Linked DNA regions of Homo sapiens: region 1 is linked to region 2. The links come from fine-mapping of genetic effects on gene expression. A gene starts in region 2. The other region holds a variant in brackets. All regions are shown on one strand. Distances are between the middles of the regions.

Region 1 (2,916 bases), 41 kb after region 2:
CTTGTACATCTTTTTTTAGGATCATATACATGCTGAATTAGTGATGCTACTCTTATGTTTTAATGTAACCCCCTCAAGATATTCTGCTCATACAAAGAAATAGATTGTGGTATAAAATTTATACATATGTATGTACATCTTCAACAGCAGAAACAATATTTTTCTGTATATTTCCAGTGCTTGGCTTCTAATAGATATTTTGTATTCATTTGTGTTGCTGAAAAAAGCAAAGCATACGATTAAAACCATAAACTTTGAGAGTATTTGAGAACATTCATTTGAGAGTAAACTTTGAGAGTATTTATTTTTTATTAAAAGCATTGACACTTAATAATAACTACATTTAAGGCCTAATAATTTATAGGTCTAGTTTTCTAGTTAAACTAGGATTATTATTCTTTGCCCATCATCAAAACATCAAGTAGTTTTTCTTCTCTAGTTTTGTTTATTCAGGACTCTTAAATAACTCCAGTCTTCTGCACCCCCCAAAAAAAAGCTTTTCATTCTCCTACAGAGAAAAAGGAAGCCTTGAGCCACCTTCCCCAATCAGATTTGCATTTATCTAGTTTGTTTGGCTTTTACCAGTTTACATAATTCTACCTTCTAATTAGAACAGTTCTCCATGCTTCAGTTACATGTAGTCAATGTCATTACATAGTAGGTTTTTATACCATAACTTAGAGATATGAAGGATTTTTCAGTTTTCTATAAATGTGTGGGCCACTTCCTAATTTCTGTTTTTTTCTAGCAAATTTATTGCAGATAACCATTGAGTCCTTTTGTATTTATCCAGACTGCATAGTCTTAGGATTCTGTTTAGATGTGCCATTATAAATTCTCATGATGGACTTACTTGAGAGACCTTTGAGCACCACAGAAGAGAAAGGAGGCAGCAAAAGGGAAAAAGTATTTTATTGAAGGTCATTCCCACAATATCCATTCATTTTATGACATTAGTAGCGCTAATTTTATAGTCACTTAGTATCCCGTCTTTTTTTGTTGCCTAGTGGAGGCTGTCATTGATGATGTAGTTGGGAGTTACCATTAGGTAGTGACTCAGCAAACCTTATGTGGTCTTAGGTTGTCTCACCTAAACTATATTTGTGTGTTATACTATGGAATTTGATTTAAAGATGCCAACTTCTTTCTTAAATCTTTTTTTTTTTTT[TG/G]AGATGGAGTCTAGCTCTGTCACCAGGCTGAAGTGCAATGGGGTGATCTCGGCTCACTGCAACCTCCGCCTCCTGGGTTCAAGCGATTTTCCTGCCTCAGCCTCCCTAGTAGCTGGGATTACAGGCGCATGCCACCACGCCCGGCTAATTTTTGTATTTTTAGTAGAGACAGGGTTTCATCATGTTGGTCAGGCTGGTCTCGAACTCCTGACCTCATGATCCACCTGCCTCGGCCTCCCAAAGTGCTGGGATTACAGGCGTGAGCCACTGCACCCGGCCCTTAAATCTTTACCTGAAATATTCCTAGATGGGGTTAACATAGCACCAGGAGAACCAGACTAAGGATAGTAGAATCATCCATGGTCTGTAGACACAGCTAAGATCATTATTTCTGCCATCTAATATTGGAGACAAGCAAAAGATTCTTAAGAGTTGCCAATTTTTAAATCAATTTTGCTGTAAAAGACTACAGGAGATCAAATGATCTAAGCCTCCTACCTTCAGGCAAGCAACTAAGTCATCGCAAATGTTATTCTGTTATTTTGATACTTGGGAAATAGTTTAGAAATACAGACTGCAGGGTTCCATCTTATATTTAGGTGATTATAATCCCAAGATGTAGGGCTTGTAACTATATTTATTTATTTATTTTTCTAAAATCAGTTTTAAAATGATTATTATGTTGACTAACCAGTGACAGTTTGTGGTGTTTGGGAACCGTTGATCTATTCTACTCTTGGATACCTTCAAGGATAATGACTGTTTCAGTCATGCAATCCTGATGGTCAGGAAGTTCATCGTTTCTGGTTTTTGTTTTTGTTTTTGTTTTTGTTTTTTTATGTTTGTGAAAAAAACTGTGTATTAACTTCAGAAATTATTTCATCTACTTAAAGCCACCTTATACCTCTCTTCTCAGTTTCTTATATATATACATATGTATGCACTGAGTTAACTAACATAAAATATATTTTTGTCAGAGCAGTCACTAGAAGTTTTTTTGAAAATTATACCTGTCATCTGAAGTTGATTATTTAACTGCTTTTAAGATCTGTTTTGTCCATTTTAGAAATTGACTCCTTAGAAACAAGTAAACATGAACTTTTATCTGTTTATTTTCATCATATGTTCTAAATGTATATATATGTAAGCACCTAAACTCTATATTACATATTCTGTGTTTTTAATTGTTATTTTCTTTTACCTAGTCTGTACAACCATATCCAGTTGTCTAGTAATTTAATGCCTGGCTGTGACTACTCACTTTTTAAGGTATGCTTAATTGGTGATTTTATATATTTATTATAGGACTGGGCCATTTGGTATTCATTAAGAAATCTTACCATAAACTTAGGAATATTTGATAGTGTGATGAATAGGCTGATAATTTAATTGGCTGTAGTATGCTTTAGTATCAATATATCTTATTCTATTTGTTTATAAAAATTGAGAGAGAGTTACTCTGTGGGCACATACTGAGATTGATTTTGATGAGAGCTTTGATTATCCAGTCTACTCCTTCCTTTATATATTTGAGCAGACTGAGTTTATCAAGCATTCTTAACCTTAGGAGCATGGGTCCTTGGAATACTTATTATTGGGCTTTGTCAGTTGGTAGAGGGACGGGACATTCATTAACTGAAATTGCATAGTTTTTGCATGTATTTTCTAGCTGTAGAAATGTACAGAGCTTCTAAAATATGTTTGCTTCTCAGAAAGTTTAAGAACCTTCAAATTAAGTGAAACCCAA
Region 2 (2,916 bases):
GGCCTCCCAAAGGGCTGTGATTACAGGCGTGGGCCACTGCGCCTGGCCTGTTAATTCTATCTACTTTAAAACCTAGTAGAGCTAAGCCCACTAGACAAAAGCTTTCATTAATCACTTCTGATATTCAGGTAAACCAAAACATATGAACAGGCAATGGCTTTGAGTTCTCATACAGCCTCAATTATGTGTTAGTCAACTCAAGCATCCATTATGTACTCAATAATAGGTATGACACAGCTCTGGACCTCATTAACACTATAAGCAGACAGGCACAGGCAGCCTGCATACACTCCTTTTCCTGGTGTCAACATTATTTAAAAGCATGGGAAATAGTAATGAGACAGTGTCTTCTTCATTAGAACCTTAGGAGTCTACTAGATTTCTTCATCTCTATTTGTTGTTATTAGTAGCCAAACTGTGCAAAAAACACGGTCTTGAGAAATGACAGCACAGTATCTTAGAGGGAAAGGAAATGTAGGATGCCAGTGTGGGGACAAATTTCTGATTGCCAGTGATTGTTGTGAGCATAACAATAATTTCATGAACATTAAAGCCTCTATTGAGGGCAGCTGCAGTTGTAAAGGAAAAAAAATGGTCCTGAACATTTAAAACTACACTGGTGTACATCATAATCAAACAAAGTAAACAGAAAAAAATTTAAACTTTGCTAAAAAAAAAAAGCAGAAGCACTTGATCTTTAGGAAGGCACGCAGTTGCTTATTATGAATCATTTCTAGAGTCCGATGCATTTTCAAAGCCGGTTACAGTCATTACGAAGCACACCCTTGTGAGGTAAGTGTATCATCACCTTTGGTTCATAAATAAAAAAGCTGAGACGCCGAGCGATTAAGTCACTCGCCTAAGGAGAATGAGTCAACGTCAAGAGTCATAGTTGACCCGGCCTAAAGACTCCAGACCATCAGTCCAGGGCTTAGTCAGCGGGGCCCGGAGTGGCTTCCCTGGCTGGCATCTGGACTTAGGCTATTTCCGTGCACGTAAAAGCGGAATATTGGAACGGTTGCACAGAACTTCCAAATAATTTTTACCGCCACGCAAGATTTAGCCCTGAGGTCTTAATCTCAGGATTTGGGACAGTAAAAGCTGTCGTCCCTCCCCCTCGTCCAGCCGGTGGCAAGCGGGTACTGCGGGCGGTTCCGTCCGTCCCCTTTCGCAGAAATGGCAACGAATGACCACCAGCATTAGCTGAGCCAGGGGACGTGGGAGGGTTGATTGCCTAAACGACTCTGCATCGCCGCCTCTTTTTGAAACTAAGAGAAAATGGTGGGAGATCAAAAGAAAACTAAATAAACACACAGGCAACTTGTCCTGGGACCTCAACTAAGCAAATGAAGCCTTATTGTGTGTGCTGAGCCTGCAGTTCCCAACCTTCCGGGGAAGATGGGAGGACAGGGCGACAAAGGGCACAGTAGGCTTGCCTGGCAGTAAGTGTGACCGCAGCTATCCAGGCGGAAGAGCAGAGGACTGAAACCACCCTCCAGCAAGCGAGTGTCCGCCGCGTTGAGAACCGCGCACCCTACCCATCGGCCACGTGACCAGTCCTTTTTAAAAAAAATTTCTTTACCTTAAAAAAAAAAAAAAAAAAAAGGTGGGGGAGAGACTCCACTTCCCAGAAGCCTCTCGTTACTCACGCAGCCGCAGTCTTGCGCAGGTGCCGCCAGGGCCAAACGGACATATCCGTCACGTGGCCAGAAGCTGGCCAATCCGGTTTGAATCTCATTTTTTTCCTCTTACCCCCCCTTCTGGAGCGGTTGTGCGATCAGATCGATCTAAGATGGCGACTGTCGAACCGGTGAGTATTGCCTTTGGCCCCCACCCCCACGGGTCCCCGCGCTCCGTCTTCCTTCTGACTGGGGGACTCCGCGGGACGGCGTTCCCGGCGCGCACTGTACCCCTTGCCGCCCCTTCCCCTTCATGTTGGACCTGACCTCCCGCGGACAAGTGGGGACGTCCCGGAGGATGGCCGAGGCGGCGTGTAGCGCACACTTTCTGGTGGGGGCCCGAGAACTGGGGGAGCGGTGTGGGGGAGGGGCGGCGTGGCGCCTCCTGCGGAACCGCGAGGTGTCTACAGGGTGGAGGGTAGCTGGGGTTCTGGGCTGGGTATGCGAGGATGGTGTCTTCATGATAGGAAGGCGCAGGGCCGGCTCCCAGCGAGTACTGGGATCCGCAGGCAGGGTGGGCGGCGAGCCGGCCTGGAGTGAGATGGAGGAGGGAGCCCTGGAGCAGCCTTTCCCTCCCTGCAGAACCCCAGCTCCGGGGCTCGGGTGCGGGGCGCGCGCACGTCTTCCTTAGACCGGTGGACTGGGGAGCTGGTGGGCGAGTGTTGCCGGAGGGTGGGTTAGGCGGGAGTGGTGCCGCGGCACGCGCGGAGGAGCTTCGACCTCGCTTAGGGGAGTTGAGAGGGGCGAGCGTCTGTTAATCCAGCGCGCCGGAGAGTTGCCGGTGTTTGCGCCAGGGGAAGCGAGAAAGGTCTGGGGTGGGAAGGAACACTCGTGTGTCACGGTGAAGCTCTCCAAGTAGAATGAGGGATGGTGGTGGTGAGAAGGGGTATCACATTGTCCTCGCCCCTCCATGCTTGGGACTGGGCTGTCATGGAGGAGGGAAGGGGGAGGAGCGAGGCCTACAGATCGCTGTAGCCGGTCGGCTTGCCGGCCGGACCTGCTGCATTTCACACGCGCCCGTCTTCCATTCATTCATCCTTTCCGCGTAGTGCGCACGCCTCAGAGAATGCGAATGGGTCTCAATCCCTCTGTTCTTCCGAGTCTTTATCTCCTGGAAGATTTCTGAGACGCAGTTTATTGGAAATAGAAACTTTTAAATTTACTTTTCCATTTGACTTTTTTTTTCTCTTTATCTATGCTACAGACTTTCATTTCAATTTAGGCACCATTTTAAACT

Which allele goes with the higher level. Alleles are on the strand shown, and positions count from the first base shown. SD is a standard deviation of normalised expression in the study named.
For the expression in rectum of the gene that starts at base 1,772 in region 2, TG is the high allele of the variant in region 1 and G is the other (moderate effect, 0.55 SD a copy in CEDAR).

Evidence for each region. PIP is the estimated chance that this variant, and not a neighbour inherited with it, causes the effect.
Region 1: its variant is the best candidate, but not a certain one, in a credible set for the expression of EIF4E in rectum (CEDAR, PIP 0.79).

What each region holds. Positions count from the first base shown.
Region 1 is chr4:98,887,411-98,890,326 of GRCh38, reverse strand. EIF4E (eukaryotic translation initiation factor 4E) reads left to right here. Exons shown (of 7, transcript NM_001968.5): 4 at 2,375-2,438. Among named protein-coding and RNA genes, the nearest start is that of EIF4E, 40 kb to the left of the region's middle. The variant TG/G (reference allele first, on the strand shown) is at 1,169.
Region 2 is chr4:98,927,989-98,930,904 of GRCh38, reverse strand. It overlaps EIF4E (eukaryotic translation initiation factor 4E), which reads left to right and starts at 1,772. Exons shown (of 7, transcript NM_001968.5): 1 at 1,772-1,810. The coding sequence starts at 1,793. RefSeq lists an enhancer at 179-1,378.